3 linked regions of the Homo sapiens genome follow. The protein of the gene in region 3 purifies or fractionates together with the protein of the main gene of each other region. This does not show direct contact. Each region holds a gene or a part of one and is shown on either strand. Other genes may lie near its edges.

Region 1 (3,652 bases), on a different chromosome or scaffold from region 3:
TTGTATTTTTAGTAGAGACGGGTTCTCACCATGTTAGCCAGGCTGGTCTCAAACTCCTGACCTCAGGTGATCCTCCCGCCTCGGCCTCCCAAAGTGCTGGGATTATAGACGTGAACCACCGTGCCCAGCCTGAGATTTTGTTTTAATTGCACCCTAGCAAGTTGCTGGTTATCTATGGTGCTCCTGATATAGAACGATAGTTAAAAACATGAGAATATTCTATTTTGGAAGTGTCTTCAGAACTATATAGTGTCATGCCTGATATTAAAGGTAGTCCTTAATATGAAACCCAGGTTTTTTTTTAAAAGGTAATCCTGTCTAAAGGCTTCAAGGAGAGGACTTTTTTTTTGTACCATAAGTTACATTCTGTCCAAATGTAAGAGGAATTTTTTCATTAGACTCATCTTCAGCTAATTGTTTTGTGTGTTCTCTGCTAGTGAGGTGGAATGACTATTAATCTGTTACCACCTCTCTTTTTATTTATGTATATATTTGAAATGATAGAGAGGTCACAAAATTATTCTTTTTTGCAGAGGAAGACTTAGAGGGCAAAACAGAGGAAGAAATAGAAATGATGAAGTTAATGGGATTTGCCTCCTTTGACTCCACAAAAGTAAGTAAAACGTGCAACATTCTCATTTGAATTAATATGTTATGACTGTCCTATCTTTCCATGTTCTTTTCCATTTATACAAATTTATTTGGTTATAAGACAATAACTATCTGTTTGAAGGGCTTTGAGAATACAAAGGAGGAAACAGTGAACTGCCATTGGAATTCAGGGAGTGGTTGCCAGGGACGATGTTTGAATTAGATTTTAAAGGACAAGTAGAAGTGATCAGACAAAGAAGAGGAAGAAGATTATTTCAGGTAGAGGGAAGAGCTCATGAAAATGCCATGTAGGTGTAAAGGAGCATAGTGTATTGTGGGAATTTCAGATTCGACCAGGGATAAAGGGGTGCTGATGGGCTAGTGACTTAGGCTAGAAATAGAGGTAGGAGGCAAATCACAGAGGGCTTTTGATGCCCTTAGTCATGCTAAGGAATTCAGAGTTTATTCTTTTGGTGTTGAGGAGAGGAAGTAGTGATTTTTAAATAAGGGAGTGGCATGGTTATATGTGTGTTTTGGAATAATGACTCTGGGGGCAGCATGGAGGACAGATGGGAGGTGGGTTAGATTGAAGGCAGGGAGAACTGCTGATTTGTGCAAGTGAAAGATGATAAAGGCCTGAACTGAGTTGAGAATGATTCAGGAGCTGGGGGAAGTGGGAGTGAGTAGTTAGTAATGCCTCTCAGGTGTCAGGCTGGGACCCTGAGTGATACAGTTAACCCAGAACAGAGTTTCTGGAAGGGGAACTGCTGGGAAATGGAAGAACAAAATCCAGCTGCCAGATAGAGATGACATTGGGCAGCTGCATACTTGTCTCATAGCTTAGAAGTGGGGTGGATAGGGGAGGGAATGCTGTCTAGCCTTCATAATAGCAGAGAGATGAGGGAAGAGGAAAAAGAGGGAGGGATTATATAGAGGAGGGAGAGCATAGAGCGAGAGATGGGGGAAGAGAGAGATGGGTATAGAGAGAGGAAATGAAGAGAGGAGAGGGGATGGAGAGAGGGAGGGTGTGTGGAAAGAAAAACATATTTTTTAAAATCTCTTTTCTAGAATTTTAAGTCTTTCCATTTAGTTTTGCAAATGGAAATAGAGATGTTTGAGAAAAAGTTGTCAAAAATAATCCACTTTCCCAAGTCTTGTATTCCATTGAGTTGCTAATGGAATGGGGTAATCTCAGTGGCTGTAAGTTTCTTTCTAACTAATGTGACTGTGTAGGGCTCACATGTTTTAAAATGACAGTGTGTAACTTAGGAGTACTGAGGCATGACTGTTTTGAGGTGAGAAATTAAGAACAAGCTCTTGTTCTTGCAATGGTTATGTGAGCTCTGTTTTGGAATTTAATGAAGTTTATTTATCAGCTTTTTTCCCTTGAATGCCCTAAATTCTTATTTATTTTCCAAAGACTATTTTATAAATGAAAGTTTATTAAGATATATGTTGGGTGAAATGTAAGTTTATTAAGATATATGTTGGGTGAATTAAAATATGTCAAAAGTAAAGCAACTATAGTTTTATTGTCTTTAGAAGAATGGGGAGGGAACTTTTTCCCCAAAGAAAATGGAATTATTTTCTTTGTTTTTTGGTTTTCCTGTTGCTGGATGTTAGGTTTAAAGTTCCTGAAAGTCAGATCTAAGGGTGGTGCCACCCATCACTTAAATGTAGTCAGTGAAGAAGATGTTTGCTTATAAAGGAAAACTTAGGTGAAAAGTCATAGATCTTAAAAAAATTATGGAGTACCATCACACTAATTGATGTCAGTTTTTTAAAATGACATCTACAAGGATGTCAATTTAGTTTATATGCAGTTGGCTTCATGGCTATCAGTTATAACGTCAGCTCATTTGTGTTTTTAAGTAATGTGTGTCTTGTGATGTTTCATCATTGATCTATTGTGGGACCTCTTCATATGCCAGTATAGTCACCCATTTTCCTTTCTATTTGATTGTATTTTCATTTTTTTATTTGTATTATTTTTTATTTTAATTTTATTTTTTCGAGACAGAGTCTCGCTCTGTTGTCCAGGCTGGAGTGCAGCGGCGCAATCTCGGCTCACTGCTACCTCCGCCTCCTGGGTTCAACCGATTCTCCTGCCTTGGCCTCCCAAGTTGCTGGGATTACAGGCGCCTGCCACCACGCCTGGCTAATTTTCGTATTTTTAGTAGAGATGGGGTTTCGCCATATTGGCCAGGCTGGTCTCGAACTCTTGGCCTGAAGGGATCCACCTGCCTTGGCCTCCCAAAGTGCTAGGATTACAGGCGTGAGACATTGCGCCCGGCCTCATTTTTTAGTTTTTTAGAGACAGGGTCTTGTTTTGCCACCCATACTGGAGTACAGTGGTATGATCATGGCTCACTGCAGCCTGACCTCCTGGGCTGAAGCAATTTCCCTGCCTTAGCCTCTGGAGTAGCTGAGAGTAGGCACATGCCGCCACGCCAGGATAATGTTTTTATTTTTTGCAGAGATAGGGTCTTGCTGTGCTGCCTAGATTGGTCTTGAACTCATGGCCTCAAGAAATCCTCCTGCCTCAGTCCATTTTTTTTTTTTTATTTTTGAAGAGACAGAGTCTTCCTATGTTGTCCAGGCTGTACTCAAACTCCTTGGCTCAAGAAATCCTCTTGCCCCAGCCTCCCAAGTAGCTGGGACTGTAGCCTCACAGCAATGTGCTTGGCTTTTCCCTTTCATCTTATTAGATTGGTGGAAAAGTAATTACAGTTTTTGCCATTGAAAATAATGGCTAAAACTGCAATTACTTCAATAACATTTTTCTAGATGGTTTCAAAGTTTGGTTTTGTTTATTAATGGATAATTTTCTATGCCAGCATGTAAATAAATGAGGATAGGGCTAATAATATGCAATTCTGCAAATAGTTTCCAGAAATCAGTAAACCTTTAGGAATCGAACTTTGTAAAAAGGTTATCATCATTTACTTTTTTGTGCCCAAGACCAGTCTTTCTAAGTCATGCTTACTTCCTATTATAGGGAGTTCAAAATCATATACCTCACAAGTAATTTGTTCAGGACTTACCTTCCACCTCCAAAAAA
Region 2 (4,340 bases), on a different chromosome or scaffold from region 3:
GAATGGCTAGTCACCGAAAGAGCAAAGGTGGGGGCCTGCCCCTCTCCGGGAGCTCTGTCCCAGGAACATTTCACATTTCCATTGGCCAAGGAATGCTGGTGGGGGTAGCTGGAGGCCCCAGTTGGGAGGTCCTGTCCAGTGAGGTGGAACAGGATCAGGGGCCTGCTTACAGAAGCAGTCTGGCCATGATTTGGTAAAGCAGCTATGCTGTGCTGTGGGATCTCTTCTGTCCCTCGTCGGTTTGTACTCTCCAAAGCCCGCAGGCTGGAATGACTACGTTGCCTGAACGGGAAAGATGGCGGCCTGCCCCGTCTTTTCTCTCAGAGTTTTATCTTGTTTCGTGGAGCTTAATTTTTAGCCTGTTGATTTTACTGTCTTCATTAGACTTGTTGAGAAAGAATCTGTTCTCTTTTAGGTGAGATAAATGAGAATTCATTGTCTTCTGTAAATAAACCTGTTCATGTCTTGTTCTCTGGAAAGAAGTCTCTTTCAGCTATCTGACTTTGGTCACAATCATGTAGAGCAGCAGCCAGTCTACAATGACGTAATTGAATTTCCATTTCCAGTGTTTCCTCGTTGTGTCTTACATTGTCCAGTTCAGAACTGAGCATTTTATTCTCAGTTGTCAACATGCTAAGCTGTCCACTGTACTGAAATACTGTGCTTCCTCAATTTGTTTTAAGGTGTGCACTTTTATCCAACTCTCCTCAAGTCAGAGTACAGGTAAGCCCTGGCTGCCTCCAGCCACTCTCAGGGAGACCAAAAGCCTTCATACACCCCAAGTTGGGGTACAAAAGAGGGGGGCCACGAAGGCTGATCATTCAAAATAAAACAAAATTAAAAAGTATTAAGGCGAAGATTCAAAAAATTTTGCATTATGTAATTTGCACAAAAGCAATGCTATCACCTCCCCTGTGTGAACTAGGGAGAGGACTGGGCCATTCTCCTTAGAGAGAAGTGGGGTGGCTTTTAGCAGGGCAAGGGGCTTCCTGAAACAATGCGTCTCACAATATTTGGAATGACTATTGAAAAGAAGAACAAGGTACAATCAAAGTCCTTGGCCACATTGTAGAACTTTGGAGGAAGCTTCCTCCAACCGACTGCTGTCACCTTCACCATTCCGGTTTTTAAATCCTGAGTCAAGCCAATAAAAAACAAAACAAAAAATGAAACAAGAAAACAAATAAAGCCATGCCAATCTCATGTTGTTTTCTGAGAAGTTTGGTTTTGTCAAGAAAGGGTGTAACGCAACTAAGTCAGAGTCCACCTACAAGCATTTGCGGTGGACAATGGAGGGGCCTGACTCATCATACTCCTGCTTGCTGATCCACATCTGCTGGAAGGTGGACAGCGAGGCCAGGATGGAGCCACCGACCCACACGGAGTACTTGCGCTTGGGAGGAGCAATGATCCTGATCTTCATCATGCTAGGCGCCAGGGCAGCGATCTCCTTCTGCATTCTGTGGGCCATGCCAGGGTACATGGTGGTGCCGCCAGACAGCACTGTGTTGGTGTACAGGTCTTTGCGGATGTCCACATCAGACTTCATGATGGAGTTGAAGGTAGTTTCATGGATGCCACAGGATTCCATGCCCAGGAAGCAAGGCTGGAAGAGCGCCTCGGGGCAGCGGAACCGCTCGTTGCCGATGGTGATGACCTGGCCATCGGGCAGCTCGTAGCTCTTCTCTAGGGAGGAGCTGGAGGCCACCGTGGCCATCTCCTGCTCGAAGTCCAGGGCAACATAGCACAGCTTCTCTTTGATGTCACGCACGATTTCCCGCTCGGCCATGGTGGTGAACCTATAGCCATGCTCGGTGAGGATCTTCATGAGGTAGTCAGGCAGTTCCCGCCCAGCCAGGTCTAGGCGCAGGGTGGCATGGGGGAGGGCATTCCCCTCATAGATGGGCACAGTGTGGGTGACCCCGTCACCAGAGTCCATCACGATGCCAGTAGTACGGCCAGAGGTGTACAGGGACAGCACAGCCTGGATGGCCACGTACATGGCTGGGGTGTTGAAGGTCTCAAACATGATCTGGGTCATCTTCTCGCGGTTGGCCTTAGGGTTCAGGGTGGCCTCGGTCAGCAGGACGGGGTGCTCCTCGGGAGCCACACGCAGCTCGTTGTAGAAGGTGTGGTGCCAGATCTTCTCCATGTCATCCCAGTTGGTGATGATGCCGTGTTCCATGGGGTACTTCAGGGTCAGGATGCCTCTTTTGCTCTGGGCCTCCTTGCCCACATAGGACTCTTTCTGATGCATGCCCCCCATCATGCCCTGCTGCCTGGGGCGCCCCACGATGGAAGGGAAGACAGCCCGGGGGGCATCGTCGCCCGCAAAGCCGGCCTTGCACATGCCAGAGCCGTTGTCAATGACGAGCACAGCGGTATCATCATCCATGGTGAGCTCATTCAATTGTAGAGCCTTTAAAAGATTATCATTCCTTTTTTTCACACTTTCAATATCCTCCAAATATTTCTTTTCTCTTAGCTGGCTCTGATGTTTCATTGTGTCTAGCTCCAGTCTTAGCATGGCAATTTCTTCCCGCAACGTACTATTTTCATGCAAGATGTCTTTTTCTTTCTTACAACTAAGAGAAAGCTAAGTAAACAAAGAGAACTTTTAGTTAGCACTCAATAGATTGACATATCATGATTTCTTCTGAAATTCAAAAATAACATGTATTTGTATAATGAAAGAATCCCCATAGTGGATATTTAACTGGAAAAAAATTGGACAAAACTTCAAACCTAATAAGAGTGTAAATTCCTCCAGTGATTTATTTTTCATCGTCTTTAAATAAATATTTAAACTTTTAGGAATCTGCTCCTAAATTCCTAAAAGTTTAAATATTTATTTAAAGACGATGAAAAATAAATCACTAGAGGATTTTTAAGAATCCCAGAATTAAAAAAAGCCTTTTTTCTGAGTTACAAAAAACCCAGAGGCATAAAATATAAGATTAATAATTTGACTACATTTTTAAGATTAGGTTTACACTCTGATATCTAACCTATCAACCACACCATCCTAAGAGCCTTAGCTATGCATATATTTGGACAGAAGCAATTTCTCAAAGTTCTTTAAGTTTCTTTTACTTAAGAACGTTTTACCGATATTCTACATTTCTAATATTTCTATACTCAGTTATAAGAATTACATTTATTTATAACTGTCAAATAAGCACTGTACCCTTCTACACTGTACACATCTGTATCTAGGCATTGCTCTTCTACATATAATACTGAACTCATTTAAGATCGCGATTCTTAAAAGGAGAGGTCAAAAAATATACACAGATGCAGGATTTTCCCCAGGTCTGCTGATGCTACTTCTAGTGATCCTCCACAAAACCACACTTACTTCTGTGGTGTAAATATATAAATACAAAAGAAACCTTTTGTTTCAAAATATGAATGGTAAATAAGATACAACTTATAGAGATTTTCTTAGAAATCATGAGATTATTTGCCATTGCGGTAACTTTTATTTCCTCTTTATAATGTTTGAAACAGTAGTAATGGTGAAATAGGGGAAATATACTGAACTATTTCTCCAGAAAGAAAATACTTATCAATAAATTATTACTAAATGTGTATCATGGCATGTCATTCTTTTCAAACCTCTTTACATTGAAATGAGAAACTACTTGGAGCAAACTGTTCCTCTCTGCAAAAGTAAGGATAATGGTATCCACAATGTGGCCTCTGACCCAGCTATACATTTCCTACTTTCTTATCAGTAAAAATAATCAATTGACTTCTCTATTAACATTTTTTAAAAAACTAATGTCCAAAAACGAGAAAATCTGTTTTCAGTAGCAAAACTTATTTCTGATGTGGAAAGATCATCAATTCTTATGAAAAATATCAAATACTTCTCCTTTGGATTGAGGCCATTGTGCAGGTCACTACTCAACTGTTGCAGGCAAATGAAGGTGAATTAAGAACATGGCTTTATCCTATACGTACGTATATAGATATATGACAAAGGATATATAGAATATATACACACATATATATGACTTAAAAATCCTTTATATTTCCAAAATACAGTTCTTTAAAATATACACACATATAAAAACATTTGAAAATAACTAAAGAAAATACCTCAGAATTCATTTTTTCAACCACTTCTATCTGCTTTTCTTCATGAATCAGAATCTCATCGTGTAATATTCCAGTGTTCTGTTCTTCACAAAATTGCTTCTGAGTATCATTTTGTTCGTCACTAGAAGAAATTTTAATTTTCATGAAATACTGGAGCTGTCCCTAAAATGATGTACAGGGCAAGATGGCGCCATCAGATGTCATTCACACAATGCATATCTGCACATTATTCCAAG
Region 3 (3,652 bases):
CAAATTAGGAACTTTTCTTCAGTTTTGTACAGTGGCATATTGCTGCTTCCCCAGATTGCCATATAAGAATACTGATTCTCTCTTTACCTTCTCTAGTGCAAGCAGGAGAACTCCAGTTACTGATAAGGAAAGCACTACCAATGCTTTCAAACATATTTTGCAAACAGAAGAGAGAGAACATGTTAAAGAATCAAAGAAGGATAGGGCAGATCAAATACACATCTATTTACAACTCACGGAGATATTTAAAAAAATTAACTCACATATCTATTGGCATTTGTCACCCTGGAGACTGTGAAAATGACACCGTACTTGAAAAGTAAAGCATCTTATAGAATAGTTTAATGTGTACAGTATATTTAACAATATCATGTTCCTTTGGAGCACAGTGATGGCAAAAGTGGCCCTCAGCCACATTTATGTATGCATGTTCGCATTTATTTTTGGATAGGAGAACTGGTCACTCTACCCTGTGGCTTGCTGTAGCAATGAGGAAAAGGTCTATCAGCTAGGACCGTGCATGCTGTATTTGACAGTGAGCAACTTCTCCCCCAGATGGTTGACTAATCCCTCAAGTGAACAATTTCATTTCATCCAGTAATTTAGTGGTGCTTGCTGGGCCTCAAACAGAAGCATCATTAAGCTTCTATTGGGCTTTCTGTCATCATCCATACCTCTAAATTGAGATTGGTTTCATTTATTCACCGACACTGTAGAACACATAATGAAATGCTTAGATTTAAAAAAAAATTGCATTTTATAACAACCAGTCCCCAAACCAAACACATTAACACTGTCTTCTGCATTTTACCAGTAGTAGTATAATATTCAATGAGGTATTTCAGTTAATGCATCATTCTCTTTCACATATGCACTGAGTTATCGTAAAGATGAAGCTGCTGTGGGCTTTTATTTGGTGTTGCTTTACCTTTCCCACATAACTGGGGAAAATTCACATCTTTTCTGTTTTTTTTTGGTTTATTTAAAAATAGAAAACAGCAACCTTTTTTTGTTTTATAGCCTACTTCTCAAAATTGTTGTGTGATTAGTGACAACGGGGGAATCTACAATGCTCACATCACAGTAAACTACCACTGACTTACTAGGATCTTAATAGTCTTACAATCCCAAACAAAAACCCTACTCATCTCACTGATGCAGTACCAGCACTTTTGGAGAAGGGTGTGGTTCTCTTATGAGGTAAATTGTACAAACATCGCAACAAATTTCTAAAAAATGTTTTCTAGAAATAGAAACTTGACTTTACCCTCTTCAAAAGCAACTGGAGGCCGGGCGTGGTGGCTCACGCCTGCAATCCCAGCACTTTAGGAAGCCGAGGTGGGCAGATCACCTGAGGTCAGGAGTTCGAGGCCAGCCTGGCCAACATGGTGAAACCCCATCTCTACTAAAAATACAAAAATTAGCCAAGCATGATGGTGGGTGCCTGTAGTCCCAGCTACTCGGGAGGCTGAGGCAGGAGAATCGCTCGAACCCGGGAGGCAGAGACTGCAGTGAGCTGAGATTATGCCACTGCACTACAGCCTGGGTGACAGAGTAAGACCTGTCTAAAAAAAAAAGAAAAAAGAAAAAGCAACTGGAAGAGATTGGGGGGAGCCTTATGTGCTGGTATCGTTCCTAATTACACTCACCCTGACAGGGGCAGCTCCTTGATGTAATGATTCAACAGACTACTGTCTGCACAGGTCCTAGGGGTGCCACATGAGAACCTGTCACCATTATAAGCCACTAGCTCTTATTTTTCTATAAACTAGCCTATTTCCCCTTAAACTGATCATTTAAATGTTCTATAGTAATTTGTTTTAACCATCCCCAAATGCATTTAGTGCCAATGTCAAAATGGAAAAAATAAAGCCTCTGAGCTGCAATAGAGGCATCACGTCAGGGTGGTGTCCAGGGCAGGATGGCGCTGGAGAGCACTGGCAGGCAAATAAACACACAGAGACAAGACAGTTCTCGAGAACCTCACACACTGCTATGCTCCCATTTGTTTTCAGGCTATATTACTAATCCTTTGCTATATCTGCATCTCAAAAAAGTGCATTTTGCAAAATTATCAATTTATGATATGCCTCTGATACAAAATGAGAAGTCAGATAAGGAAAAGCACGAGTGTATGTAAACACAGTGTTGGACTGAGCTAGCCTTTGTAAAGAACACATCCAGTACCAGAAGGGGTCCAGTGGACACTGCTTTTCCCCCACAGAGAATGTCAATATTCTAGAGTTTGTTACTGCAACAGACTGGAGTTTGTTACTGCAACAGACTGGAGTTTGTTACTGCAAACGACAGGGAAAGAGTTCTTCACGAGGTGCCAACCAGCTCCCCTCAAGTTTACTGAGTTGGTGGAAATGTGGGCGTTCTAGAGAACTGCCCTAATATAGACTACAGCTAAGAGGGATGAATATAACTTTCTGAGCTTCAACTAAATTGTCAAGTATAACTGGTGGCAACAGAATTTCTCTCAGATAGTCTTCTAGGATGATTTTATGATTTCCTCTTCTCCAAATGTGATGTTTGCTTAAATATGTGATAGAGTGTATCTTTTTAAAACATGTTCTTAAAATATATTAGCAGGTCATTATATTACTAATCCTCATTTTAGTAGATTTTAAAATATCCCAAAGGGGGATAAATATTAATCCATCCATTGAATTTCTTTTGCTTTTTTTTAAATATATTCTGATTTGCACATGTAAAATAATGCACACTTATGAAAGAAAGTCTGAACTCCTACGGTGACCTTGACAAGTCCACGTCAATTCCTAAAACAGGCAATGGTAAAAATACTGAATGATGTTGTACCACATATAGCCTGACAAAAATGCAAAAGACTGTATGAGAAATATCCACAAGTTGCTGAGGGTCATCTCCCTGGAAACAGCTTCCTTATGGCCCTTGGAAGGTGGAAAAGCTCCTAAAAGACAAGATAGAAATATTAGTTTGTTTTACTGTAATGGTAGGTCTCCTGGAATAAAAGTTGAATATTAGCTTAACTACATTTGTACATGTTAAAGCACCTTCAGTGACTTTCCAGTGCCCCAGAGGAGAGATTTTATTTGAAATACAATTTCTGTACTACCTAGCCCCTTCTTGCCTCTGAGCCTTTGCCTTTTCTCTGCCTGCAATGCTGTCCTCCTCCACTTAATGAATAGCTGGCTCATGTGCATCCTTTCCATATCAGAAAAGATATTCCCCCTCCCATCTCTGTTTATCTCCTTCCTGGAACTTTTTCCAATTGGTCATGATCCCAATTATCTTTCTTTCTGCAGACTTGTTTGCCATGTCTCCCACTGGAATATAATCTGCATGAGAGCAGGCACTCTAGCTGCCTTGTCTCTGCTGGATCCCTAGAGATTCCCACAGTGATCAGGACCCAGGATTATGTGAGATTGACATGAAATAATTTCTGAAATAGCACACTTTATGCTGATTCCTCTATTTACAAATTTTTTGTCAAAAAAGTAGTTGTATAACACTGACATTATTTTTAAAAGGCAATATGCTTTATGAAATGTATCTTAATAATAAAAGAAATACAAAGTAAACAGATGTCTTTAAATTCGTTTCTGGAAAGGAATGCTAGATAACTTCATACAGCAATATTACCTAAGGTCATCTTGATAACACTCAT

What was found.
Region 1: the proteins of LPGAT1 (region 3) and SNRNP27 purify together in Homo sapiens (co-immunoprecipitation; one large-scale study listed by IntAct). This does not show direct contact.
Region 2: the proteins of LPGAT1 (region 3) and POTEF purify together in Homo sapiens (affinity purification with mass spectrometry; 3 studies listed by BioGRID and IntAct, with this or other methods). This does not show direct contact.

What each region holds. Positions count from the first base shown.
Region 1 is NC_000002.12:69,896,844-69,900,495, forward strand, and holds part of SNRNP27 (U4/U6.U5 small nuclear ribonucleoprotein 27 kDa protein), read left to right. Parts: intron 1-533; coding exon 534-613; intron 614-3,652. UniProt on the Homo sapiens protein: May play a role in mRNA splicing.
Region 2 is NC_000002.12:130,072,977-130,077,316, forward strand, and holds the end of POTEF (POTE ankyrin domain family member F), read right to left. Parts: intron 4,226-4,340; coding exon 4,105-4,225; intron 2,597-4,104; coding exon 1,268-2,596; 3' UTR 559-1,267; downstream 1-558.
Region 3 is NC_000001.11:211,747,116-211,750,767, forward strand, and holds part of LPGAT1 (acyl-CoA:lysophosphatidylglycerol acyltransferase 1), read right to left. Parts: intron 2,936-3,652; coding exon 2,784-2,935; 3' UTR 1-2,783. UniProt on the Homo sapiens protein: Lysophospholipid acyltransferase involved in fatty acyl chain remodeling of glycerophospholipids in the endoplasmic reticulum membrane.